4 linked regions of the Homo sapiens genome follow. The protein of the gene in region 4 interacts with the protein of the main gene of each other region in a pairwise test. Each region holds a gene or a part of one and is shown on either strand. Other genes may lie near its edges. The genes, in order: MET, GRIPAP1, GAB1 and STAP1.

Evidence for each region.
Region 1: the proteins of STAP1 (region 4) and MET interact in binary tests that used the Homo sapiens proteins (3 or more experiments, as listed by UniProt).
Region 2: the proteins of STAP1 (region 4) and GRIPAP1 interact in binary tests that used the Homo sapiens proteins (3 or more experiments, as listed by UniProt).
Region 3: the proteins of STAP1 (region 4) and GAB1 interact in binary tests that used the Homo sapiens proteins (3 or more experiments, as listed by UniProt).

Annotation. Positions count from the first base shown.
Region 1 is NC_000007.14:116,752,174-116,759,201, forward strand, and holds part of MET (hepatocyte growth factor receptor isoform b preproprotein), read left to right. Parts: intron 1-3,181; coding exon 3,182-3,342; intron 3,343-5,263; coding exon 5,264-5,366; intron 5,367-5,464; coding exon 5,465-5,601; intron 5,602-6,285; coding exon 6,286-6,447; intron 6,448-7,028. UniProt on the Homo sapiens protein: Receptor tyrosine kinase that transduces signals from the extracellular matrix into the cytoplasm by binding to hepatocyte growth factor/HGF ligand. Regulates many physiological processes including proliferation, scattering, morphogenesis and survival.
Region 2 is NC_000023.11:48,992,253-48,999,280, reverse strand, and holds part of GRIPAP1 (GRIP1-associated protein 1), read left to right. Parts: coding exon 1-43; intron 44-1,100; coding exon 1,101-1,127; intron 1,128-1,923; coding exon 1,924-2,031; intron 2,032-5,702; coding exon 5,703-5,853; intron 5,854-7,028. UniProt on the Homo sapiens protein: Regulates the endosomal recycling back to the neuronal plasma membrane, possibly by connecting early and late recycling endosomal domains and promoting segregation of recycling endosomes from early endosomal membranes.
Region 3 is NC_000004.12:143,465,862-143,472,889, forward strand, and holds part of GAB1 (GRB2-associated-binding protein 1), read left to right. Parts: intron 1-241; coding exon 242-364; intron 365-3,169; coding exon 3,170-3,328; 3' UTR 3,329-7,028. UniProt on the Homo sapiens protein: Adapter protein that plays a role in intracellular signaling cascades triggered by activated receptor-type kinases. Plays a role in FGFR1 signaling. Probably involved in signaling by the epidermal growth factor receptor (EGFR) and the insulin receptor (INSR).
Region 4 is NC_000004.12:67,561,704-67,568,731, forward strand, and holds part of STAP1 (signal-transducing adaptor protein 1), read left to right. Parts: intron 1-7,028. UniProt on the Homo sapiens protein: In BCR signaling, appears to function as a docking protein acting downstream of TEC and participates in a positive feedback loop by increasing the activity of TEC.

The sequences.
Region 1 (7,028 bases), on a different chromosome or scaffold from region 4:
GCAGTATACTGCCACCAGTAAATATATTTGTGAGTTCTACTAAAGAGGAAAGGAGACCCCTTTTGGAGTTTTTTTGTTCTGTTTTGTTTTTGTTTTTTAGTTTTCTCATGTTTTATCCTAATGGGTTTTGAAAGCATGATCATTTAAAATACTGTTGGAATGGGCCCATCAGTGATGTGATCTTTCACCTGTGAAAAGACAAGGGCTACTTTTGTGGCTGTATCTCCCCTATCCAGACAGGTAGGAGACCCAGCCTCTGTGGCTTTATGCCGGACGCTCATTTCCTGCCCACAGAGTTTCTCTGCCCTTCAGGATAACTCAGAGTTTGCCAGCCATTGTTGGGTCTATCCAAGGGTGTGTAGTTCACAACTGCTTCCTTCCTTTTTCCCTAGAAGGGTAAAGGTTACCCCATAAGCTAAGGGGAAAATGCCCAGCCCAGAGAGAAAAGCTAAGCAGAGCGAGCCTCTTGGATCCTGAGGGTCTAGCAGAGGGCTTATAATATCTCTTCCTATTGCCAGTGCCCCAGTTGCGCAGCTCTCTGCGTCTTTTCTCAAATCATCACCCAATCCGTTTGCCTTTTATAGAAAGTGATGGTAATGATGTGTGTAGAGTGACAGACTTCAGTTTTTACATAGAAAGACGGGATGTAGGCAGTGGGATCAGGCCAACATCAGCCTTGGGCAGCGTTTTCAGTGGGGAAGCCTCCTCATTAGAAGAGCCGGCAGCAGCTGTGTGACTGCCTCAGGCTGAAGAGAGTCCTGGGAGGGTTGGATGTCTTGTTCTCTCCTACTGGATTTCTACCATAATAATAATAAACAGATTTATTTTTCTAGTAGTTCTCATTTGACTAGACATGGATGAGGTAAATTTTCAGGAAAGGCACAACAGTGTAATGGATTTTTATGGGTAAAATGGCTATCATAAAAGCTTTAAGCTAAAACTTTAAAGGGGTTTGATAACGAGGGTACATTAAGACTTTGGTTTGCAATTATTTACTTAGGAAGGATGGAAATGTTTGCAAGTTTGAATTTGGCTAAAAGCCCTTCTTAATTGTAAAAGAATCACTTTTAGATGTTCACAAGCTGAGCTTTAGCAAATACCTTTACTGGTTCTTGAGTTGCCTCTATCTTAGTTTTCCCACCATTGTACTTTACAGCACAATTTACAATATGTCCCCACCCCCAAAAGAGCATTTCCTTTCTCAATTGTCACAAAGCTGCTGAGAAGAAGCTTATTTTTAACTTGGAAATGTGTTTTGTTTTAATAGTTTTAGCCTGAGAGCAATTATCTTACACACTTTATAGGTGCCTAATGCGGTCTTAAATCATGACTGACCAAGGTTTATCAATAAATCCATTGATAACATACCAGAAATGAGTCTGCAATAACAAAATGAGTCTGTTATTTGCTTAACATCAACCATCAGGGGGAAAAATTTAATCCTAAAAATGAGATATAAAACAATACCAATGAAGATAATTAGGAAAAATTGTTACAATACTGATTTTGGGCCCTCTCTGGTTCCGTTTTTATCTATTTCTAAAAGAAACAACATAACACATGTATTAAATATTACATAATTTTTAAAAGGCTGAGTGTGTCAACTAACCAGCCTGGTATACATCAAATAGTGACCATATTTAAAGAACAAGGAAAAATCTTCAGTCATTAATAAATGTGAACTAATAGGTAAAAAGAAGTAGATTCACTTTTCATTTGTTAGTGCCTGGTGCATAGGAGGTGCTTTATTAAGAAATAATTAATGAAACCTGGGCAGCATAACAAGACCCCGTCTCTACAGAAATTTAAAAATTAGCTGGGTGAGGTGGCGCACACCTGTAGTCCTGTCTACTAGAGAGGCTGAGGCGGGAGGATTGCTTGAGCCCAGGAGTTTGAGGCTGCAGTGAGCTAGGACTATGCCACTGCACTGCAGACTGGGCAAGAGTGAGACCCCCATCTCTAAAAGTAAATAAGTAAATAATGAATGAATGAATGAATGAATGAATTATTGGCAGATATGTGTTCCAAAACCATCTATATGTTTCATATTATGCTAGCTGCTGAATGCAACTGGGCAAACACTGGATACCAAATGAGGTATTTTTACTGTGCAACTTTTGTCTCTGGGTGGGGAATACCATAGCAACCAGAATGTAGTGCACGCAGCCAGTGCACAGAGCAAGGCGTATAATGGCTGGACCTTGGCTTATAGAGCACATGAAGGAGTTTGATAAGAGCTCAGTCCGAAGGCTGATGAAGAGTTACAATCAGAGTTATGAGCAAGTAAAAGTCTGGGCCCAACGTGTTTCTACTCCTACCCTAAAGAGCCCTAGAAGATGAATTCACTTCAGAATGGCCCAAAAAGGGCCAGGTCCAATGGCTCATGCTTGTAATCCTAGCACTTTGGGAGGCCAAGGCAGGAGGATCACTTGAGCCCAGGAGTTTGAGACCAGCTGGGCAACGTAGTGAGACCCTGTCTCTAGAAAAAAAAAAAATAGCCAAGCATGGTGGCCCACGCCTGTGATCCCAGCTACTCAGGAGGCTAATGTGGGAGGATTGCTTGAGCTCAAGAGGTTGAGGCTGCAGTGAGCCATGATCACGCCACTGCACTCCAGCCTGAACAACAGAGCCAGACTCTGTCTGAAAAAGAAAAGAAAAGAAAGAAGGAAGAAAGGAAGGGAGGGAAAGAAAAAGAAAGAAAGAGAGAGAGAGAGAAAGAGAGAAAGAAAGAAAGAAAGAAAGAAAGAAAGAAAGAAAGAAAGAAAGAAAGAAAGAAAGAGAAAGAAAGAGAAGGAAGGAAGCAGAGAAAGGAAAGAAAGAAAGAAAGAAAGAAAGAAAGAAAGAAAGAAAGAAAGAAAGAAAGAAAGAAAAGAAAGAAAGAACGGAAGGACTCGAAAAGCCCCTTTATTCCTACCAAGCTGCATCTGCTCTTTGTCCCATCTTTGGATCTCCTGAAAACAACTTGTTTCATTAACATGTCATGTAGTTTTAATGTTTGTTCCAGATGCTCTGAAATTTGTGACCCTTTTCCCTTTAGTGAAAATTAAATTTTTACTAAATTGTGGGAAAATGAAAGAATTTCAGACTATTTAAGGATATACATTTTGTTTGTTCGTTTTCCATATATGTGAAAAATTATAATATATTGGGTTTTTTTAAAAGTTCTATGTTGTCCTTGTAGGTTTTCCCAAATAGTGCACCCCTTGAAGGAGGGACAAGGCTGACCATATGTGGCTGGGACTTTGGATTTCGGAGGAATAATAAATTTGATTTAAAGAAAACTAGAGTTCTCCTTGGAAATGAGAGCTGCACCTTGACTTTAAGTGAGAGCACGATGAATACGTAAGGATCTTAAAATGCTTTGCTGGGGTGTGCTTGGAAAATAGGTTTTGTTTTTGAATGAATATTTCTTTTAAAATTGCTCAAGAAGCTCATCTCTTGAATTAAAAAGGGTCTTGGCCTGTCACATGCCTTGTGGGTCTGTTCTGTTTTGTTCTTGTAATCCCATTTACTCATTGGATTTGAAGAGAGAGAAAGGTGACATGGCCTAGGTGAAGAGAAGAGGCCAGAAATGGGAGTTTCTCAACCATTTATGCGACAAGTCTTCAGGTGTTGTCTGAGTAGATTTGCAAGAGTAGCACTAGTTGGGATCACTTCATCCTTGGAGTCTTCAAATGTAGAGTCTCCAAAGGCTTTTTCTACAGAAATCAGTAAACAGCTCAGCATGGATCCTCTCTTTTAAATTCACTTTCTAAACCTCAGAAATGTAGTGAGGCAGCTGAATCACGTGTTTGAGACTTTTTTAGATGAGTTAAAATTTATATTCAGCTTATATTTACTGGCACTGCAATATATGGGCTGTATCTCACTGAACCATCCCCACGGTCCTGGGAGGGAGCAGTATCATTCCTATAATATAAAAGAGGTACCTGAAGTTCAGAGAGATGAAGTGTGGCTTCACAGAGGTAATCCAGAGAGTAAGAGCTGAACAAGCCTTCAGCTCAGCTCTGATCATCTTCTGATCCAAGACCCGTGCTAGTTCTACTGTATTCTACATGTACCCTTCTACAAGCTTTGAATTCCATAATCATCAGAGAATCCAGAAATTATTCATTATCACATAATAACAACACTCAAATATTTAAAGTTTTATGGTTGAATCTTTATGATTGAACCCATTCTATCAGGTGGTTATTTTATATCTAATAGAATTCATTTCAGGGTTACACAAAGGTCCGAATCTATCCATTTTACTGAGACCAAAACACTAATGAAGGTAATATTTGTTAGCTGAATGGCAAAACAAATTTTTTCTAGAAATCTCCCTTGTAAAATCTCCAAAACTCTTAATCATTGCATATAAATCAGGACCTGTAAAAGTAAAGCATAATTCATTCTCTCCTTTAAAAAGTTATTTAATAAATCAAATTGTATTTAAATTTTCTCAGAACTATATGATTATTCATTCAGAAATAATTCTATGGAAAGCCATCACAATTTCATTATCATTTAAGTAATTTAAATAAGCATGTACAAGTATAACCACAGAAATGTACCTGTTGACATACTTTAATGAAGAGATTGGCCTATTTGTAGTTAGCCCATTGTTTCATATGCATCTGAAGTGGACCAAAGATTATCCCCAAATATTAATATTATCCAAACTTAGATTATTATGCACTATTCAACTGGTGAGGTCTTTATGGATAAGGTCTGATATTTCCTGTTTGTCTGTATAAGTGCTATAGTACCATTAATGTAAAGTTTAGTATAAGCAGGGTGCAGTGGCTTACGCCTGTGATCCCAGCACTTTGGCAGACCAAGGCAGGAGGATCACCTGAGCCCAGGAATTCAAGACCAGCCTGGGCAACGTAGTGAGACTCCATCTCTACCAAAAAAAAAAAAAAATTTTTTTTTAATTAACCAGATGCCGTGGCATGCACCTCTAGTTCCAACTCCTGAGTCCAGAGGATCCCTTGAGCCCAGGAGTTCAAGGCTGCAGTGAGCTATGACTATGCCACTGCCCTCCAGCCTGGGTGACAGAGCAAGATCCTGTCTCTTTTTACATAAAAATAAAAGTTAAGTTTATCATAGTATAGAAATAGGATTATATAATTTTTGGCCTTAATGCTTATCTTGAAACTCTGCTTGCTATTCAAAGCAGTCAGCTCACCATTTAGAGTTAATGTCACTTCCTATAAAACAACCTAACCAGAAAATTCCTTGGATTTGTCATGTATTAAACTTTGGGTTTTTTTTCCAGATTGAAATGCACAGTTGGTCCTGCCATGAATAAGCATTTCAATATGTCCATAATTATTTCAAATGGCCACGGGACAACACAATACAGTACATTCTCCTATGTGGTAAGGAAGATTCTATCCTATCATGTTTGATTTTTACTTAATCTATTTAAATTATAAGATGAACAAGTTACTTTGTTTTGTTTTTATCTCCCCTCCAGGATCCTGTAATAACAAGTATTTCGCCGAAATACGGTCCTATGGCTGGTGGCACTTTACTTACTTTAACTGGAAATTACCTAAACAGTGGGAATTCTAGACACATTTCAATTGGTGGAAAAACATGTACTTTAAAAAGGTGTTGTAAATTTATTTTTTGTTGCATCTGTCAATTTGAATTAATATCTGTACCTTAAAAATTAAGCAGATTGTTTTGTGTGTGTGTGTGGAGAAGAAAAATCAAGATGTTTATTTGTTTACTCTCCTACTGACAAAACTTCCTCCTTCCAAAATTCATCTACTCCTTTTGCTGATTTTTCTTCCTTTCTCTTGTTTTTTAGCAATCCTACTTTTCAGTTTTGTCTTCCCATCCACCCTCTTTATTGTTATAGCTTAGGATCTTAGCTATACTATGAGCTGTGAGAGTCTGGTCATTGATAATAATTTAAAATAAACATTTTCATCAAGATTTGTAATTAGACTAAGTCACTCTGGGGAAGGAAGAAATGGGGAAAATTGGGTCTGGAAGACAGTTATGTTTCTGCTTCTTAGAGTTGGAAGAGCTCAGTTTAATCAAGTACCAAAAGTACTTTAAAGGTTTTTTTTTCAAATCTCAAATGTTTTCCAGTCAAGGATAGCTTGTCCACAACAAAGGTAAGTTTGAGATCCAGTCAGATTAAACAGCCTACACTAGAAAAGGCTTCCACTCAGGAAATTCCCACTTAGGAACCATTGAGTTATATCCTTTTGATTTGTGGATATAATTCTAAAATATGTGTATCTCTAATAGCTAAAATTCACTTCCTTAATTTTTTTTGTTCAGTGTGTCAAACAGTATTCTTGAATGTTATACCCCAGCCCAAACCATTTCAACTGAGTTTGCTGTTAAATTGAAAATTGACTTAGCCAACCGAGAGACAAGCATCTTCAGTTACCGTGAAGATCCCATTGTCTATGAAATTCATCCAACCAAATCTTTTATTAGGTAAGTAGAAGCTTCTGATGGGTATAAGAAAACAATGAATACAAGGATGATTTTGCTGTAGAATAGTCAAGAGGAATTGCAGTTTTATCTCTGGCTTTGATGCTGTTATGTTGCTTTTGAAGGCTTCTTTCCAATTCAGGAGAGAAAACTATATTCAGGTTCTGAGTGTAGTTTGACTTATCAATGCTAGTTCATTCCAAGAAGTATCTTATCCTGTTCTATTACATTTAAACAGAGTATAGCAAAATAGTTTAATGTGGCATTGTAGTATACATGCACTTACATTATGTACATATCAATTCTATACTAACCTTAGTGCCCAGAAGTGGAATTACCTTTTTTCTTCCATTCTCTAGATATGTTTTTGTCCTGCCTGCTTTACACACAGCTTTTCTTTATGCCAGACTCTCTTTGAATTGATATCTCATTGGACCCAGTTCAATCTGCCTTGTTTCCGTTAATTCTATCAGTCTAGCAACAATAGTTAAGTTCGGTTTTCTTTGTATTTTTTTCAGAGGTGAAATATTTATTTTGTGTAATTCGGTGAATAAAATACAAATGCATTTCTTAAGCTTATGAAA
Region 2 (7,028 bases), on a different chromosome or scaffold from region 4:
GAAGGTCGCCTACTTGGATAAGGAGTTCAGCAAAGCTCAGAAGGTACCTCCCTCCACCCACCCATCCACCTACCCATCCACCCTTGCTTCTACCTATCTGACTCATTCATCCCTCCAGTGAGCACCTACAGTGAACCAGACCTAATGTTGCATGCTGTTTTCACGTAGTCATTTAAAGGATTCTCAATGGAATTCTCTTTAGTTGCTAATTTTACCTAATCCTGCTTAATTTAGTGATTAATTTTAATTTACTTTTAATTCATTTCTAATTTCAGTTACTCATTCTCATTCACTGACTTTTAATTAAATATTCAAATCTATCAGTAAATCTACCTCGAATCTGCCTCCCATCCTCTACTCACACTCCTGCCTTGTGCTCCTACTTCCCATCTCTGTCCTGGTCCAGTTGGGAAAATGAGAGCAAACCCACCTCTCAGATCCTCTAAAGATGAGATAGGATATAACCTATTGTGGCCCCTCAAGACATTCGAGGTGCTCCTTTGTCACTGCTCTGTCCCCATATCTAGCCATACCTAGCACAATGTTAATACATAATATGTGCTCAATAAATATTTGTTGGATGAACGAATACAGTATGCAGAAAATCCGACAGTCAGGAAGCTGCACTTCTCTTTGGTAGGATGCTGATTCCCCTAAGCTGGCAATGCTCTTGGCTGCCCAGTAGGGGAGCGACAGTTTCCACACTGCGTGGGAGGGACCCACAGAGACATGTATGGACAGATGTAGCAATGAAGCCACAGTTTCTGAGTCTGGAGATCCAGCCCATAAATGGTTAAATACCAGGGCATCTCCCTACCTCCCCTGTCCCCCCACCAGCCTCAAGAGCTTCCAAGAAAGGATGATTTATGTGTGCTGGGGCCCCAGGGCAAGACTTGCATTCATTCACTCACTCACACACTCATTCCATCATTCCTTTGGGCTCCAAATTGTCACACATGTTCTGTGGTTGAAGATGCTCCCATCCTGCAACCCCTGTCATCCTTGTCCTCCCAAAACGCTTGGCACAATTGTCTCCATATCCTAGTAAGGCAGTCCATCTCTGTTCACTTTAGCTCTCTTCCCACCCACCCCCACTTTAGGCACTGAGCAAGAGCAAGAAAGCTCAGGTAAGGGGATCCCTTGTGGGTGAGTGTGACTGGGAGATGTCTTGGTGGGCTATTTCTGTATGCTGATATTTCCTTGTACTGGCCTTTCTTTCTTTGTGTGCCTTTACATCTGCTACTACCTCACTGCCATGTGTTGCTGTATCTGTCCTTGTTTCCCTGTATTTGTCCTAACTCTGTGTCTCTTTCCTTCTCTCTCTTTCCATTCTTTTCTCTGAGTCTCTTTCTGTCTCTGTCTGTTTTCCTGTTCCTGTCTCTCTGACTCATTTCTCTTCCCAATCTTCTCTTTGTCTCTCCCCCTCCTGTTCCTGTCTCGGTGATTTCTCTTTTTTCTGCTTTCTCTCTCTAACTCCTTGTTTCTTCCACCCCATTCCTCTCTCTTCCTAACTCATTTCTTTTCCTGACCCCTCCTCTTCTCCCTGTTCTGTTCTCTCCCTGTTGATTTCTGTTTGTTCTTCTCTCCGTCTTTTTCACTCTCTCCCTCCCAATCCCTCTCCCCTTTTCTATCTCTCCCCCTTTCCCCATCTCTACTTCCTCTCTCCCCAATCATTATCTTCCTGTCTTTTCCTCCGCTCTCTTCCTCCCTGTATTCCCTTCTCTCTACCTTCCCATGTCTTTATCTTCCTTTCCCTGTCTCTCATTTTATCCCTCCCCATGTCTCTTTCTCCTATATCACCTCATTCTCTGTACCCTATGTCCTCTCCCACCCATGTCATTTTCTCCCTCTCTCTGTTTCTTTGCCCTACCTCCCTATCCTTTTTGCCCTTGCTGGAGTCCTGGCCCTTGTCTGCCACTGCAGGAAGTCGAGGTATTGCTGAGTGAAAATGAGATGCTGCAGGCAAAGCTGCACAGCCAGGAGGAGGACTTCCGTTTGCAGAACAGCACACTAATGGCCGAGTTCAGCAAGGTGCTGGTGCCTGGGATAGTCAAAGGGGAAATGAGGGGTAGGGGTCATCTGGGCTGAAACCTAACAGCGGCAGAGAGTGATTGGACAGGGTCTGGCCCTGGAGCACTGTCCGTGGTGCTGAAACAGGTCCTGGATTGCTGCTGGGGGGCAGTAATTTGACAGATGGGGCCGCTCACTCTGCTGGGATTAGAAGGCTTTGAGCCCTGAGGTCACCTGGTTCCTGGCCAAGTCACTCCTTTTATTTGAGCTTCAAGTCTCCATGTGTATAATGTGGGGTTGATGCTGTGGTGCTCCAAGGTGTTGGGGGGTTTTAGGCAGAGTTCTTATGCTTAATATAGGATGGAAAAGTGTTCGAGCTTCTTCCCTTTTCTCTTTCTTCTCTTCATCTGACATGAGCCTGGGGTTCTACCTCTTCCAGATAATTCATCCTGGAGCTACTAATTCTATCTCCCCATTGATTTTAGTGTCCTGTCTGTTTCTAAATCTACTGGGCAGTTGGAGACATTGTCTTTTGTTCCCTCATCTATCTTCTGTATCCACAGTTGATAATTGTCTATGTTTTTAGTGTGTTTTAAGGAAAAAAGTCTCATGGCAGCAAATTTTTTTGAGATGGAGTTTCACTCTCATTGTCCAGGCTGGAGTGCAATGGCATGATCTCAGCTCACTGCAACCTCTGCCTCCTGGGTTCAAGCGATTCTCCTGCCTCAGCCTCCCAAGTAGCTGGAAGTACAGGCATATGCCACCATGCCTGGCTAACTTTGTATTTTTAGTAGAGATGAGAGAAAATGACATGGGTGGGAGAGGACATTTAGTAGAGAAAATGACCATGTTGGTCAGGCTGGTCCTGAACTCCCGACTTCAGGTGATCCACCCGTCTTGGCCTCCCAAAGTGTTGGGATTAAAGGCGTGAGCCACCGCGCCCGGCCCAAAAATGGTATTTCTAAGGCTCCATCTGAGAATATAGTGCCTATGACCTTAAAAAAACAAAACCGAAAATAACCTTTAAGCAGGTACAATACCAGGAGAGGCAGTTGAGCAAGTAGTAGGTACCAGCAGGGACTCTGGAACCAGAAGGCCTAGATTAAAATCTTGGCTCTACCTTTTACTAACTGTAACCTTGAGGAAGTTACTTAACTTGCCTGGTTCTTGGTTCCCAAATGTTTAAAATGGAAGTCATGATAATAACAGTACCTGCCTCTTCACAGGGCTTTTGTGAGGATTAAATGAATAAATGTACGTAAATCACTTAAAACAGAGCCTTGCACATAGTATCAGCTATGGAAGCATTAGTTATAATATTATCCTTCTATTAACTCATCTTCCCTCTAAAATATTTGACTTTTTAAAAGTTTTATGGCCGGGCGTGGTGGCTCAGGCCTGTAATCCCAGCACTTTGGGAGGCCAAGGCAGGCAGATCATGAGGTCAGGAGATGGAGACCATCCTGGCTAACGTGGTAAAACCCCGTCTCTACTAAAAATACAAAAAATTAGCCGGGTGTGGTGGCACGTGCCTGTAGTCCCAGCTACTCGGGAGGCTGAGGCAGGAGAATCGCTTGAACCCGGGAGGCGGAGGTTGTAGTGAGCCAAGATTGCACCACTGCACTCCAGCCTGGGCGACAGAGCAAGACTCTGTCTCAATTTAAAAAAAAAAAGTTTTATATCCACCCTGTGGCCCTGCTTTGCCTTAGCCTCTACCACTTATCATCTGCTGTTTCTACAGCCGCCTCCCTGGTCTCTTCACTTCTAGTTTCTTCTACTTAGTTCACACCACAGAGGCTGTTCTGACCTGCAGATCTTATGACATCACTCCTTTACTTAATACATTCCAGTGCCCCAGTCCTGCTCCTAGTTCAGAGCCCCTGGTATTCACATAACTGCTGGCTTCACTGACTGACTCCTCACTGCTTCCTGCCTCCAGCCTCCATGGTATCATGATTCTTGCAGAGTGAGGCAGGGGCAGACATTCTTCCATAAATCCAGCTTGTTTCCCTGCATCTGCCCTGGGCCAGCACTGGGCTAGTCGTAGAGACTTCCTACATAGTCCCCTTCCTCCTCCAACTCCTCCCAGGAACTGGAAGTGCTCTCAGAGAGAGCTACGTTAAACCTGCCACCACCCCTTATTCATCAAGACATTTCAGCTTAATTGTTCCTTCGACAAATAGTTACTGAGTACCCACCACATGCTCTATGTTCTGGAAATACAGTTGTAAGCAGCACAGAATGATCTCCACTCTTGGGTAGCTTACATTCTGGGGGTGGGATGAGGAGAAAGATGATAACAGTAAACAAATAATACTAGTAGTGATAGCTGACATTTATATGGTGCTTACTGTGTGCCAAGTCCTGTTTGAAGTACTCTACATTATTCACTCATTTAATCTTTGAAATAAGCCTATGAGATATTAGTATCCCTATCTGACAGATGAGGAAAACTGAGTTCCAGGGAGATTAAGTAATTTGTCACACAGCTAGTAAATGGCAGAGCAGAAATTCACATTCAAGCAGTCTGGTTTCAGAATCTGTGCTTGTTACAAAAGAAAATTTTGATTAGTACTAGGTAAGAAAGAAATGAACAGTGCTGTGACAGAGAGTACTGGAATTTTCTGTGTTGAGGGATACTACTTTAAAGGCAACATCTGAGCAGAGCACTGAGGGATGCAAAGAAGCCAGTTAGGTGAAGAACTGGATGAGAGGATTGGTGTTCTGGGTAGAAAATATTGCAAGCAGGCCGGGTGCGGTGGCTCATGCCTGTAATCCCAGCACTTTGGGAGGCCGAGGCAGGTGGATCACCTGAGGTCAGGAGTTCAAGACCAGCCTGGCCAACATGGCGAAACCCCGTCTCTAATAAGAATACAAAAATTAGCCGGGCACGGTGGCGCATGCCTGTAGTCCCAGCTACTCAGGAGGCTGAGGCAGGAGAATCACTTGAACCCGGGTGGCGGAGGTTGCAGTGGGCTGAAATCGTGCCACTGTACTCCAGGCTGGGTGACAGAGCGAGACTCCATCTCAAAAAAAAAAAAAAAAAAAAAAGAAAGAAAATATTGCAGGCAATAAAATAAAAATTCTCTGTAGGCCTCGATATTCTCATCTGAAAATGGGGACAAGGAATTTTCTCAGGACTGCTTTGAGAAGTGTACTTCAGCCAGGAGTTGGGCAGGGGGCTGGCTTAGTTGTATTGGCATTGTATACCTCTCCAAGACTAACGGCTGGCAATGCAGGAGCTGTCATCAGTGTTGGCCCTGGAAATGCCCTGCGAGCTCTTTGTGGTGCTTAGGATGAGAGGGAGCTATCTCTGGGCCCAGGATCCAGCCCTCCACAGAAGAGGGGTTGCAGTGAGGCTGTCTGTAGCACTAACAACTTCCAGAGGAGCCTGAGGTCTTGGATTGCATCTCTGAGGTTGGGAGTAGGAAGAGGAAAATGGTTTTTGGTGTCCTCATACTTGGTATGCTCTTGGTATTCTCTGACTCTGCCACTTAAAAGATGTGTGAATTTGAACTTGTTTAACATCTCTGTGCCTCAATGTCCTTATTTGTAAAGTGGGAGGGCACCTATATCATAGGGTCATTATGGGAATTAAGTGAATTGTAAAGTACATGGACAAATGCTATGTAGGTTTCAGCAAATACTGCTCTGATTCTCTGCTTCTCTGCCCCTTCTCTTCCTCTGTTCAGCTCTGCAGCCAGATGGAACAGCTGGAGCAAGAGAACCAGCAACTGAAGGAGGGGGCTGCAGGAGCAGGGGTTGCCCAAGCTGGGCCCCTCGTGGATGGGGAGCTGCTGAGGCTACAGGCTGAAAACACAGCCTTGCAGAAGAACGTGGCAGGTGCATAGAGGCCCTCCTGGGGATGCGGAGACATTGGGGCTTGAGTAGGGCAAGGAAGGCCGTCATCCTCTCAGGGGAAGGAGAAGGGCTTCAGAAATAGGGTTGGCCCATGCCCTGTGTGGCTTTGGACAAGCCATTTCACCTCTCTGAGCCAAAGCCTTATCATCTACACAGTGCATGTAGTGATGTCTGTCACCCAGAAGATTGTAGTAGAGATAAAAGGTGATATCATTCTGCATTAGTTCAGTGTCTGGTACCTAGCAGATGTTACAGATTAGCAGCTTGAATGTCAAAAAGGAGATATTTGCGGCCGGGCGCGGTGGCTCACGCCTGTAATCCCAGCACTTTGGGAGGCTGAGGCGGGCGGATTGCGAGGTCAGCAGATCAAGACCATCCTGGCTAACATGGTGAAACCCCGTCTCTACTAGAAATACAGAAAATTGGCCGGGCACGGTGGCGGGCGCCTGTAGTCCCAGCTACTCTGGAGGCTGAGGCAGGAGAATGGTGTGAACCTGGGAGGTGGAGCTTGCAGTGAGCCGAGATCACACCACTGCACTCCAGCCTGGGCGACAGAGCGAGACTCCATCTCAAAAAAAAAAAGGAGATATTTGCTAAGTGAAAAAGTGAATGGAGTGTTGGGAAGATTCTGAGCCCAGATTGTAAGTGGGGTCTGGGATGAAAGCTGAAAGAAAGCTTGATAGAGTGTGGGAGCATGTGGTGTGTGGAACTTTGGAGAGCAGCTGGGACTTCTGTGGTGATGGATGCTGGTTCCATGACCAGGAGGGAGACTTAGTAGAATGTGAGTAGGAATTAGGAGGCTCTAGGAGGGATTCAGCTGTAAGTCAGTGGTAGCATATGGTGGGCATGGCCTTCAAGGGCTATGGGTGGGGCTTCAAGGATTGAGAATGGGATTTGTGAAACCAGCTTGGGCTAATTTAATAGTAAACAGAATCTTAGTGGTTGATAGGGCTTAAAATATTTGTGAGAGCCTGGGCACAGTGGCTCATACCTTGATTCCAGCACTCTGGGAGGCTGAGGCAGAAGGATCTCTTGAGGCTAGGAGTTTAAGACCAGCCTAGGCAACATAGCAGGAACTTGTGTGTACTAAAAATAAAATAATTAGGCCAGGCACGGTGTTTCACACCTGTAATCCTAGCACTTTGGGAGGCCAAGGT
Region 3 (7,028 bases), about 76 Mb from region 4:
TGATGTCTCAATCTTAGTGTGAACCAAGTTTAACTTTTGAAACTACGTTTAGCTTGCTCTAAGCTAGGCTTTAATCAGTTTTTTAAATATTACTTATTTTCTTTCTATCCTAAAAGGTTGTTTAACTTTTTAAGCTATGTCCTCTTGAAAGCAAATATTTAGGCTTCCGTAGATGTTCAACAGTACGAGTGGTATGTCTGGTGAATGTCTGACCGTTGATTTTGTTGTCTAATACTTTCAGAATCTCTTTGGCAGTAACAGTCTTGATGGAGGAAGCAGCCCTATGATCAAGCCCAAAGGAGACAAACAGGTGGAATACTTAGATCTCGACTTAGATTCTGGGAAATCCACACCACCACGTAAGGTGAGTGACATGTGACATGTCTCTTCTTTGTATACAGTTAGTTCACACTTCAAACCTGAAGAATTATTTCCTTTGGGATAATTTTATTAAGTTATGTTTAATATAAATTTAGTCTGGTCTGCTACTTGATGCTATCTCATAAAACAAAAATAACATAGTTATGGAGACTGATTATTTTTTCCTTTCTGATGGTTAGAAATTTTATACTTTCTACTTTTTTAGTGGTTACCATTGAAATAGTTATTTAACAAATTCTTTTTTTTTTTTTTTTTTTTTTTTTTTGAGACAGAGTCTTGCTCTGTTGCCCAGGCTGGAGTGCAGTAGTGTGATCTTGGCTCACTGCAACCTCCGCTTCCCAGGTCCAAATGATTCTCCTGCCTCAGCCTCCCAAATAGCTGGGATTACAGATGCGCGCCACCACTCCTGGCTAATTTTTGTATTTTTAGTAGAGACACGGTTTCACCATGTTGGCCAGAATGGTCTTGAACTCCTGACCTCAAGTGATCCACCCACCTCAGCCCTCCAAAAGTGCTGGGATTACAGGCAGGAGCCACTGCATCTGGCTGTTATTTAATGAATTCTAAAGTTAACCAGTCTAGTGTCTTTACTCTCCTTAAAATGCTCAAATTCTGTGCTATCTTTGTCCAAAATTTTAATGTTGTCTTTTTGTTAAGCCCACTAATTAGACAGTATTATTACTGCTCTTATTATATAACAATGTTTATTTACATTTTCCTACATGTTGACCAGCTTCTTTGTCATTCCTTCCTATTTCTCAGACCTTCCTTCTGCAATAATTTTCCCTCCACCTGAAATATACCCTTTAGAAGTGCCTTTAGTGGAGGTCATTGGTAGTAATTTTTTTCAGTTTTTGTATAACTTAAATGTCTTTATTTTGCCTTCACTCTTGGAAACACAGTTTTCTTGAGTTTACAGTTCTTGATCAACAATAATTTTCTCTCAGCCCATGGAAGATACTATCCCACTACTGTCTTGCTTCTATTCCTATGGAAAAATTGCTGTCAGTCTAATTGTAATTCCCTTGTAGATAATGTCTTTTCTGACTGGATGAGTTTAAGGTCATTTCTGTATCTTTGGTATTCTACAGGTTCACTACAATACGTCTAGACATAGATTCCTTTTTATTTATCTTGCTTAGAAGTGCTGCCTTCTTTTTGGATTCATATTTTTTATCAATTCTGGGAAAGTCTCAGTCACTATTCAAATATTGCTTTTCCATTTCTAAAATGAAATTCTGTTTGGGTCTTTATCAAATATGTCTGGCCAATTTACTGGCTCCTTTTTCAATATCTGAAGTCCTTGGAGGTCTGAATCTGTGTATATTGTTTCTCCTATCTCACACTCTCTACAGTTTGTTTCTTTGTGTGTTTTATATATTTTTATTGCAACCTCATTTTGTTGAACATATCTTCTGAGGACCTAAATTTCTTCTATAAACTATTTGTATTTGCTTCTGCTAGGAACCAGGAGGTGCTACCATCCTAGGACCACATCAGTTCCCTTCAGGGGTCCCTAGCTTGATGAGATATTCTCAGTTTCAGCATCACCTCCAATGCAGGGCCTCCTGATTGCATTTTTGAGATTGACATTCATCCTAAAGCCAACACCACGTTTACCATTTAGAAGCTCACCACTCCCTCTACTTCTCTTATACCTTAGACATTTCACTTTCTAGTGAGCGCAGCAGTGCATTGATAATTTTATTTAAATATCTATATCTTGTTGAATTTTAGGAATGAAAAGGCATCAGCTTATGTAGTTTGTCATTCTTGAAGTATAACTTTTCCAAAAACATTTCTTGTTAGCTCTCAAAGTAAACATTGATTCATGTTCTCAGAGGTTGAGAGACAGTCAAGCTTAAGTTGACAGGAGAATCAGGTTGTCTATGTTAAGATGAAACAGGCATCTGCTGTCCCTATTTTTTATGAATTTCATCTGTCATGGAAGCATTAGTTTGAATTCTTTTTTTTTTTTTTTTTTTTTTTTTGGACGGAGTCTTGCTCTGTTGCCCAGGCTGCAGTGCAGTGGCACGATCTTGGCTCACTGCAACCTCTGCCACCCGGGTTCAAGCCATTCTCCTGCCTCAGCCTCCCAAGTAGCTGGGATTACAGGCGCGTGCCACCATGTCAGGCTAATTTTTGTATTTTTAGTAGAGATGGGATTTCAGCATCTTGGCCAGGCTGGTCTTGAACTCCTGACCTCGTGATCCACCCATCTTGGCTTCCCAAAGTGCTGGGATTATAGGCGTGAGCCACTGTGCCCAGCTTTGAATTCTTAAATATAATAATTTTAAATTTAAGGCAAAAATAGTATATAGTTAGGAGAGAGACATTTTTAAGTTGAGGTAGTTGATGTTATTTTTTGTGTATGACCCAGAAAAATTTTAAGAGTATTCATGGCCGGGCATGGTGGCTCACGCCTGTAATCCCAGCACTTTGGGAGGCCAAGGCGGATGGATCTTGAGGTGAGGAGTTTGAGACCAGCCTGACCAATATGCTGAAACCACATCTCTACTAAAAATACAAAATTAGCCAGGCGTGGTGGCACATGCCTGTAATCCCAGCTACTCAGGAGGCTGAGACAGGAGAATTGCTTGAACCCAGGAGGCGGAGGTTGCAGTGAGCTGAGATCGCACCACTGCACTCCATCCTGGGCAACAAGAGCAAAACTCCTTCTCAAAAAAAAAAAGTATTCACAGTGGATGTGTTTTGTGTTTTAAGACTGAGTTGTACTCAGGAACACTCCTTTATATGTTGGACTTTTTGTTTTTTCTTTGTGTTTTAGCAAAAGAGCAGTGGCTCAGGCAGCAGTGTAGCAGATGAGAGAGTGGATTATGTTGTTGTTGACCAACAGAAGACCTTGGCTCTAAAGAGTACCCGGGAAGCCTGGACAGATGGGAGACAGTCCACAGAATCAGAAACGCCAGCGAAGAGTGTGAAATGAAAATATTGCCTTGCCATTTCTGAACAAAAGAAAACTGAATTGTAAAGATAAATCCCTTTTGAAGAATGACTTGACACTTCCACTCTAGGTAGATCCTCAAATGAGTAGAGTTGAAGTCAAAGGACCTTTCTGACATAATCAAGCAATTTAGACTTAAGTGGTGCTTTGTGGTATCTGAACAATTCATAACATGTAAATAATGTGGGAAAATAGTATTGTTTAGCTCCCAGAGAAACATTTGTTCCACAGTTAACACACTCGTAGTATTACTGTATTTATGCACTTTTTCATCTAAAACATTGTTCTGGGTTTTCCCAATGTACCTTACCATAATTCCTTTGGGAGTTCTTGTTTTTTGTCACACTACTTTATATAACAATACTAAGTCAACTAAGCTACTTTTAGATTTGGAAATTGCTGTTTACAGTCTAACAACATTAAAATGAGAGGTAGATTCACAAGTTAGCTTTCTACCTGAAGCTTCAGGTGATAACCATTAGCTTATACTTGGACTCATCATTTGTTGCCTTCCAAAATGCTGAGGATAATGTATGTACTGGTGTCAGGACCTAGTTCTCTGGTTAATGTACATTTAGTTTTTAATGGTGGAACTTTGTTATATTTTGTTAATTACAGTGTTTTTGGTTCATTGAGTGAAGATTCTGCCGGGTGGGATCTTGCACCTTTGAAAGACTGAATAATTACACTACCAAGTAAGCCTGCAAATCATTGATGGCATGCAGTGATGATGTGCTCTTACACTTGTTAACATGTATTAAGTGTTATTTGCAAAAGGTAGATTATGTAACCAATCAGGTACGTACCAGGCAGTGATGTGCTAATACACTGATCAGGTTTAGACAATGAGCTTTGGTTGTGTTCTTGTTAGTCCTAATATTGGTTTTCAGTTTGGAATTAATAAAGCAGTTGACATTCACTGTTAGTTACAGCAACATACTGTGATTTTTAATTAGATAGTAATTCAGATTTATTACTCTATGAAATTCTGTCTTTTGACACCATAGTGCCCTTTCTATGATTTTTTTTACTTAATATTCTTCTTGGCCTTATATTTAATTCCCTATGCAATTAATATTTTATATCTGCATTTTTTTAAAAAAAATAGATGTTATATAAGTGATTCTCGTATGTAGCACCTGTTGCTTTTCCACTGAAAGAATTACGGATTTTGTACTGTGATTTATATTCACTGCCCCAATTCAAGAAATATTGGAGCCTTGCTACAATGTGAAATGTTATAGTCATGGACTCCTTCCAACCAGATTTCTGAAAACACCAGAGGGATGGTATAATTCTGTCTCACCTATAACATGGTCCTGTGACATAGATATTAAGACCACAAGTTGTAGTGAGGCTACAATTATATTCGTCTGTCTTGGCTTTGCAACATAATTTAGAAAGCACGTATAGTTGTTTTTTAACCAAGTTACATACAATCTCATGTACTGATTTGAGACTTATAACAATTTTTGGAGGGGGCATAGAGAAAGGAGTGCCCACAGTTGAGGCATGACCCCCTCCATTCAGACCTCTAACTGTTGCCTGAGTACACAGATGTGCCCTGATTTCTGGCCCATTGGCCATAGTACTGTGCCTAATCAATGTAATAGGTTTATTTTCCCAATCCTCAAACTAAAAATGTTCATAACAAGATGAATTGTAGACTAGTAACATTTGATGCTTTTAAATATTTGCTTCTTTTTAAACAAAAACTAAAACCCAGAAGTGAATTTTTAGGTGGATTTTTAAATAAAAAAGATTGATTGAGTTTGGTGTGCAAGCTGTTTTATAATGAAACAACAAAATGAAATCTAAAATCCTGAAATGTGCCTAAACTATCAAAACACACGATACAGCTAATGTGTAAAGATGCTAAATTCTGTTACTTGGAGGATGAATATATTTAAGATTTAAAACACAATAATAAATACATGATTAATTCAAAAATAAAAATCTTTACAGCTGCCTATCAAGGGTCTAAAGCACTTAATGAATGTTTTTAGTCTAACTTATCATTAACTTTTTACAAGTCACCATATTTGAAGATCTGTAGCACTCTGATTTTCAGAAAATTTTTCATTCTGAATAATTTAAAAATGGTGATGTATTAGAAAGGCAGTTTGCTTTAGAAAACTAAATCACATTGAACATTGTATTAGAGAATTAAATTAAAAGTTTCTTACAGAGCAGTATTTTCCAAACATTTTTAGCACTAGAATCTTTTTAGATGAAATTTTATGTATAACCCCAATACATAAAGCCTGAAAACTCAATTTTATCAATATAAATGTATTTTGGGTTCACATTTATGCTTATTCATTTTGGCTCATTACTAAGCATAATAAGATTCTGAGTTATTTCTGAATAACACAAATGTGGAGTTATACATAGTTGATGAAACCAGCAGCCAATTTATAGCTATGCCCTGTTTTATTTGTATACTATCAAGAAAATTTTGATTCACACAAATGTAAGCAAAAATAATAGGTTTTAAACATACATCTCAGGAAATTCTTTAATTAGAGATAGCTAAAGTTATTCAAGGTCTATACAAAAATAAGTTATCCTGGTAGTGGAAGTTAATACATAAGCAGTCTCCAGTGTGGTAAAGTAGGGTATGTAACACATCAGAATGTGCGTTTTTATTAGGTTTTAAAATATGCACGTATAAAAACTAAATTTGAATCAAACCCTTTTAACTCACCTCCAAGAAGCTAGACTTTGGCCAGGAATGGGCTAAAAACCACTGGTTAACGATGTGACAGTTATGATCTTGGAGATTGGAAATCTTTCTTCCACATTAGAGTTCTTTACCTTAATTCCTTATTCTGAAAAATTGTAAGATTTTATGAAGGTTTGAATACTGAAGCACAGTTCTGCTTTCAAAAATTAAAATTCAAACTTGAAAAAGCTGTTTAACCCATGGAAGATATCATTTAGTAAGATGTAAAAGATTTTTTAAATCTACACTTCAGTTTATACATCTTTATCATTATCAATACTATATAAGTTACTGTGAGCATTTTAGAGAATTCCATAAAGGTACTATGAGTGTGTCTGTATGTGTGTGTATATATAGCATTGTATTTAATCATAGACTAAATTTAATTTGATATAGAAATACTACTTTACTTGTACATTAAGGTCATAATTTCTGCTGGACTCTTTTATATTTAATTAATGGGGATTATAGTCTTCCTTCATAAATGCATTTAAACCTGAAATTGAACACCAGTGTTTTTCTTTTTCTACTTATGGGAAGTTGTCTGCTTCCCCCTTTAGAGAAAACAGTATTTTTATATTTTGTTAAAATATTAACTACTTTATGCCTACACACTATGCTGTAGATACTGATCATAATTCTTGGGTGTTCACAAACACTCCTAGTGCCTCTTTTTTGGCCCGTTGAAAGTGTTGGTATTACTACTTTCACTACAGAGCCTTTGGCCCTCTAATAATGCTGAGGTGGGCTGATCCTTCCCATTTCTGTCTTCGGGTCATTCTGGTAGGTCTTCTCCTCCACTGTCAAGTAAGCAATCAGGTCCGTGACAGGGATTGGACATATGAACAAATTAAGTGGATACACACAGTGAGAAAGATACATGCATTCTATGGTAACAACTACTGTCAATAACATCTGATGTTACATGCACATTTATATATATATAATTTTAAAAAC
Region 4 (7,028 bases):
TGGAATACCATTGGCATCGCAGTTCTTACAAATGGGAAAATTTCTCATTTTTTCTGGGACCGTTTGAAAATAAGAGAGAGTGTGGGTGGGCCGGGAGCGGTGGCTCATGCATGTAATCCCAGCACTCTGGGAGGCCCAGGTGGGCGGATCACGAGGTCAGGAAATGGAGACCAACCTGTTCAACATGGCGAAACCCCGTCTCTACTAAAAATACAAAAATTAGCAGGGCATGGTGGCACGCACCTGTGGTCCCAGCTACTCGGGAGGCTGAGGCAGGAGAATCACTTGAACCTGGGAGTCAGAGGTTGCAGTGATCCGAGATCGCGCCACTGCACTCCAGCCTGGCAATAGAGCGAGACTCTGTCAAAAAAAAAAAAAAAAAAAAAAAGAAAGAAAGAGAGAAAGAAAGAAAAGAAAAAGAAAGAAAATAAGAGATAGTTTGGGCAACGTCTCATAATTTCTTCAATCTGTGATGTGCTAAAGTAAAAAAAAAAAACAGTGTGTGTGGGCCGGGCCCGGTCCCAGCTATTCGGAAGGCTGAGGCAGGAGAATCGCTTGAATCTGGGAGGCGGAGGTTGCAGTGAGTCAAGATCGTGCCACTGCACTCCAGCCTGGGTGACAGAGCGAAACTCCGTCTCAAAAAAAAAGGAAATTTTTTAGGGCTGTCTAAGTTGTGCTCACACACAGTTCTCTATGGCAGTAATCTCCAAATTTTAAAATAACACACTCCTTTCAGGAAAACATTTTGAGCACAGATCCCTAATATAAGAATATTAATTCAGCCGGGCGTGGTGGCTCACGCCTGTAATCCCAGCACTTTGGGAGGCCGAGGCGGGCGGATCACGAGGTCAGAAGATTGAGACCATCCTGGCTAACAAGGTGAAACCCTGTCTCTACTAAAAAAAAAAAAAAAAAAAAATTAGCCGGGCGAGGTGGTGGGCGCCTGTAGTCCCAACTACTCAGGAGGCTGAAGCAGGAGAATGGCGTGAACCCAGGAGGCGGAGCTTGCAGGGAGCGGAGATTGCGCCATTGCACTCCAACCTGGGCAACAGAGGGAGACTCCATCTCAAAAACAACAAAAAAAGAATATTAATTCATTTGGAAATTATAAATATATATATTCCCGTACTATTAATCCATGTAAATTATTTGATATATAAAAAATGAATTAAGAAATATGAAATAAAATATAATTAAATATTCTAAAATTTTCTCTCCCAATGGATCATCTTGCACACCTTTGGAATTTATGCATCCCATTTTGGAGACCACTATACAACATTCTTCCTTAGGTAAATGTACTTTACTTGCGCACAAAAACAAAGAATGAGAGCTTTTTATTGGGGACAGAGGAAGAGAAACTTAACTGGAGCTTGCATTGTAATTCATTTTTGCTAGTTAATTCATTTTTGCTAGTTGTATTAATGAGAAAAGAGCACTGGGAAGTCAAGAGATAAAAGTATCAGTCCAATTCTAGAATTTGGGCGATTCCTTCACATTTTTAAATCTGTTCTCTCCTTTCTAAAAAGAATAATTACTCTCTTGCATAGCTGAATAGGTTGCTCCAATGACTAAGTGGACTATATAATAATGAATGCAACCTTTTGAGGTATAACATATAATGGATCCCATTCTAGGCTCTTAGTGTTCTGTCACTGTGATCCTTACAGTAACTCTTCTGGGTAGAAATTATTTTATTCACTTCACAAATGAGTGAGTAGGTGAGGCATGCTGGCTCATCCCTGTAATCCCAGCACTTATGGAGGCCAAGGCAGGAGGATTGCTTGAGGCCAGGAGTTGGAGATCAGCCTAGGCAATATAGCGAAACCCCATTTCTACAAAATCAAAAAATTAGCCAGGCGTGGTGGCACACCCTGTATTCTCAGGTACTCGGGAGGCTGAAGTGGGAGGATCACTTGAACCCAGGAGTTCGAGGCTGCAGTGAGCTATGATTGCATCACTGCACCCCAGCCTGAGCAACAGAGCGAGACCCTGTCTCTCTAAAACAACAACTCCAAATAAACAAATGAGTGAGTTCTGGCCACAGAGGTTATTCAAGGTTCCTCTTCCATTAAGGAGGCTAGCTTGGATTTGATTGTGATGCACTTGACCATGCTGCTTCTCAAACTCAAATTCTACCATTTGATTGTAGGTTTCCTAGTTAAGCTAGTGATAAATTCAGAAGTCTTATTTCAGCCTCTTTTCTTACATCAATGATTTCACACAAACGATTGTTAAAAAAAAAAAAAAAGAAATTTGTGCTTCATTCCAAAGATATGTCCTTCCAAATTAATTTTTTTAATTTTTAAGTATTTCTCTAGATATGAATAGGTACCTAGATGTTGTTTATTGAGATTGATATTTATAAATGACTCAGATTCTATGTGTATTTATTACATCTTATCGAAATGAAATCAAGATTGTGACCTGTAAGTCTCTGCATACTGAATATAAGTTTGGTCTGTCCTTAGGTTTGCAGCTGTGGTTGCAGTTCACATGGTCTAATGCTATTTGTAACCTTACTTTTCCTCCAGGGCTGCCTTTGCTTTCAACTTAGTGCCTTTATACTTGCTTTTCCCCCCATTTAATAAATCCTTAATCCTTTCCACAAGTATATACGTTTGCTTACCTGTAAAACTCCCATTTTTCCCTATTTAACTTTACCCAATTCATATCATTCTTTTGAGACTGAACACCTCTACAATTTTTCTCGATAGTGCAATGGAGGTCTGCATGTACATACAGAGGGAATTCAATAAACCTTTACTGGCTATCAGTAATACTAGTTTTTATACCTTATGGCAGGGTAATACTGTAGTTATGAGGCTGATTAGGACGATGAACAGAGTGGTAGGCTTTGACTTCAGGGTTTTCTCTTGTATTTTTTTCCTCCAGGAATCATACAATCCTGGAGTTGGACTAGATCTTAGAAGCCATACTTTAGTAAAATTGCACAAATGACACTTTGGGAGCCTGAGGCGGGTGGATCACTTGAGGTCAGGAGTTCGAGACCAGCCTGGCCAACATGGTGAAACCCTGCCTCTACTAAAAATACAAAAATTAGCCAGGCATGGTGGCATGTGCCTGTAATCCCAGCTACTTGGGAGGCTGAGGTGGGAGAATGGCTTCAACCTGGGAGGCAGAGGTTTCAGTGAGCAGAGATCAAAATCACACCACTGCATTCCACCCTGGGTGACAGGAGACTCCATCTCAAAACAAACAAACAAACAAACTACACAGATGATAAAGTTCTCAGAACAATATGCATTTCTCTACATTCCCATCTCCTCCTGCACTGTTCCTCACCTGCTTCCCAGCTCCAAAAAACAGGAGAGCCTTGATTTACTCCTTTCATTGCAGAGGCTTACCATTAATGCAGGGTGGGGAAGCCTTAAAAAGAGTTGGTCGGATAAGCAAAGAAACAAAACAACTTGCAAGATAAATTTTAATTATTTTGTTATGTAATTATAGGTCAGATTGAGAAAGTACAAGTATTTTTTAACAGAGTGAAAAAAACTAGTCACTCCCATATGGTTTTTTACAGAATGGCTATCTGATCGCAGTGCTAGTATATATTAGCAACTTCTCAAGCCAGATTTCTAAATGGATTTTTAAACCTCTTTATTTAAGAAAACATGAAAGGGTGATTTTACATAGGAATGACAATGGGTTTCATTATTCTGGTTTAGAAAATATTTCCTCCTTCTCATACATATTACCATTGAAGGAGATCTATTTTAGAAATTTTTAGATACTGCTATCACACCCACACATACAAATCACCACATGGAAGAAGTATTATGTGGCTAATAAAAAATGCAAAGTTCTTGCCAATAATGTGAGTGTTGAGGCAATGCTCTTCTTTTTCTTTTCTTTTCTTTTTTTAAAGTGCCTGACATTTATGAAATACTTGCTATGTCCCAGGTCTTAGGTGCTTTACACACATACATTATTAGTCCATTCAATTATTCAACAACTCTATGGAGCAATAGCAGGAGGTGGTGTTGTGTTTATGGGGTACTCCTAGTTTTGGGTACTCCTATTTTTGGTTCCTTAAAGTAAACTCTCATATGGGAGACACAATAATAATTATTATTATTCAGTGTCTTTTGATATATTCACAAACTTATACAACCATCACCAGTATCTAATTCCACAACATTTTCATAATTTCAAAAAGAAGCTCCATGGGCAGTCATACCCACTTCTCTTCCCCCCTCAACCCAACTGCTTTTTTTTTTTTTTTTTTTTTTTTTTTTTTACGAGACAGAGTCTTTCTCTGTCGCCCAGTCTAGAGTGCAGTGGCGCGATCTCTGCTCACTGCAACCTTCGCTTCCTGGGTTCAAGAGATTCTCCTGTCTCAGCCTCCCAAGTAGCTGGGATTACAGGCGCCCGCCACTACTCCGGCTAATTTTCATATTTTTAGTAGATACAGGGTTTCACCACGTTGGCCAGACTGGCCTCGAACTCCTGACCTCAGGTGATCTTCCCGCCTCGGCCTCCCAAAGTACTGCGACGACAGGCATGAGCCACCGCGCCTGGCCCTCTTCCCTCTTTTTTACATTTTTTATATACTCTTTTATTAGAATTTTTCTTCTCCCAAGTTTGAAACCAGCCAGACACAGAAATCACACAAATGAAGATCAGTTAGTTACTTTTATTATTGACAAATTATCAATGTGCAGTTTAGATTTAAGGCCAAAACTGTGCTTATATTTTACTCCAGATTTGGGTAGCCTTGAGCTACATCAAGTCACTGACTCAGATTAAGAGCCACAAGCTGAACCTCTTGGAGGCCCTTTGCCACATGGCAGGGAACAGAGCAGTACACTCACTCTCTCCTGGTAGACTGAGCTGAGAGAGGACAGGAAGGGGCTGAGCTGAGCTTGCTGCCTCCCAAACACACCTATTAGATACTCAGTCCTACTCTCTGCAAAGGAAATAATTCACCCTGGCAGTACTGAGCAGAATAGATTCGAAAGTAGGTTGGACACGGTAGCTCATGCCTGTAATCCCCGCACTTTGGGAGGTTGAAATGGGCAGATCACTTGATGTCAGGTGTTAGAGACCAGCCTGCCCAACATGGTGAAACTCCGTCTCTACTAAAAATATAAAAATTAGCTGGGAATGATGGAACATGCCTGTAGTCCTAGCTACTGGGGAGGCTGAGGCAGGAGAATTTCTTGAACCCAGAGGGGAGCAGGTTGCAGTGAGCCAAGATCACGTCACTGCACTCTAGCCTGGGCCACAGAGTGAGTGAGACTTCCATCAAAAAATAAAATAAAATAAAAATAGAGTAGATTAATAGATTAGAAAGTATAAGAAAGTGGTAGAAAGACAGGTAAAGGGATACTGTTATAGCAATAACACTTTACATCCTATATAAAAAGAAGGAAAGAAAAGACTTTGGATGGGGTTGAAATTAAGATGTGTTTTCTTGTCATTAAACTGCTTGACTGAGACGTATCAGGTATATATTGGGCATCTGGATTTCAGACAAGAAAGAGAATCTCTTTGCCTAGTTTTATAACTACTTCTTTGAGGACCATTTATTGGCTGATCCTTCAATAATATGCCCTTTTGAATTGTTCTTTTCTATGGTAATTTGTTCCTTGGTTCAAGAGGCATCAGCAGGTTCATTGCATGTTATAACCAGTTCTCAACTGGGGGGAGGATAGAGTGAAAACACAGCAGGGCTTGAACAAAGATACCTTGTCCCAAATTCCAATGTGCCCCTGAGGTTGATTGCTGCAGTCACACTACCAATTTGTTCAAGTCTTACTGTATGTACCTCTCTTTGAAATATGACTTTTCTGCTCATCCTATAAAGAGGCTGAATCTATTTCTCTAATCTTTATTTTATGTTTCAAAATTGAACTTACAGCAAACAATAATTTTCTAGCCTTTGAATCTGGATTGGGTTATGTGACATGTGTTGGTAAATGTGACACAAGCAAAGTCTTAGAATAAGCTTGCCCATTGGGTTTTGCTCTCTCTTGTTCCTGGTAATCCTTCTGCCAGCATGTGTCAAGTCTAGGCTAGCTGACTGGATAAAAGAATGGATAGAGTGAGACTCCAGTTGTCCCTCCCTTCCCAGTCATTCCTGCCTTCCCAGCTAAGACCCTAGACAAGTAAGTGAGGCCACCTTAGACCATTCAGCCATAGCCAAGCAAGCCCAGATCAGAAAGGCCGTCAGCCAACCATAGAATGGTGAGAAATAGAAATCATTTGCTTATTTTAGTCCACTAAGTTATAGGGTGACTTGTTACATGGGAGAAGCTAACTCATATATTATCTTATTAGGCATGAAGACAAAGAAAGAAAAGAGTTCTACCAAGAGCATAAGAAAAAAATGGTGATTGTAGTTCAAAATGAATTTAATCTTGAGCTTCCTGGTAGCCAGGGAATTAAAAGCAAAATTGAGTTATAGAGTCGTCATTATTTGAGAAAATAAGCATATAAATTCTGAAGAGTCGACAAACATTTTACTGGTTAAAAAACATAAAGGATATGTTAATATTGAAGAGACACAAAATACCATAAGACAAAGTATCTTCACATGCACAATAAAAGAGAAAACCCTTTATATAACTTTCTTATATTAATCGCCAATATCATGATGGTTCAATAAGTTGTAAAACATCAGCTTATCAAACCATAAAGGAAGGAATGATTAACATGTTTATTAAAATAACAGGAATTTTTTTAAAACACACTTTTGGGAAAAGCTGCATATGAAAGTAAATCTTTAGATGTGAAAGGATTTTATTTTTAAAACTTACTTGCCATTCTTTTGTAATATAGTCACTCTTCATATTTATTTAAATAAACTTAATTGAATGAAATGGGAGTTTAACTAGGTTATTTAAATATTTTAAACTTCAAAAGTCATATTTCTGTAGAATCTAGAGTAATATGAATGTATTAATAATTAAATATTCACCACATCAATAAGATTTGGATTTTAAAGTTCAGCTTTGATGGTGTTCAATTATCAATTTCTCACATTTTCTTGATCTGTCAATAAT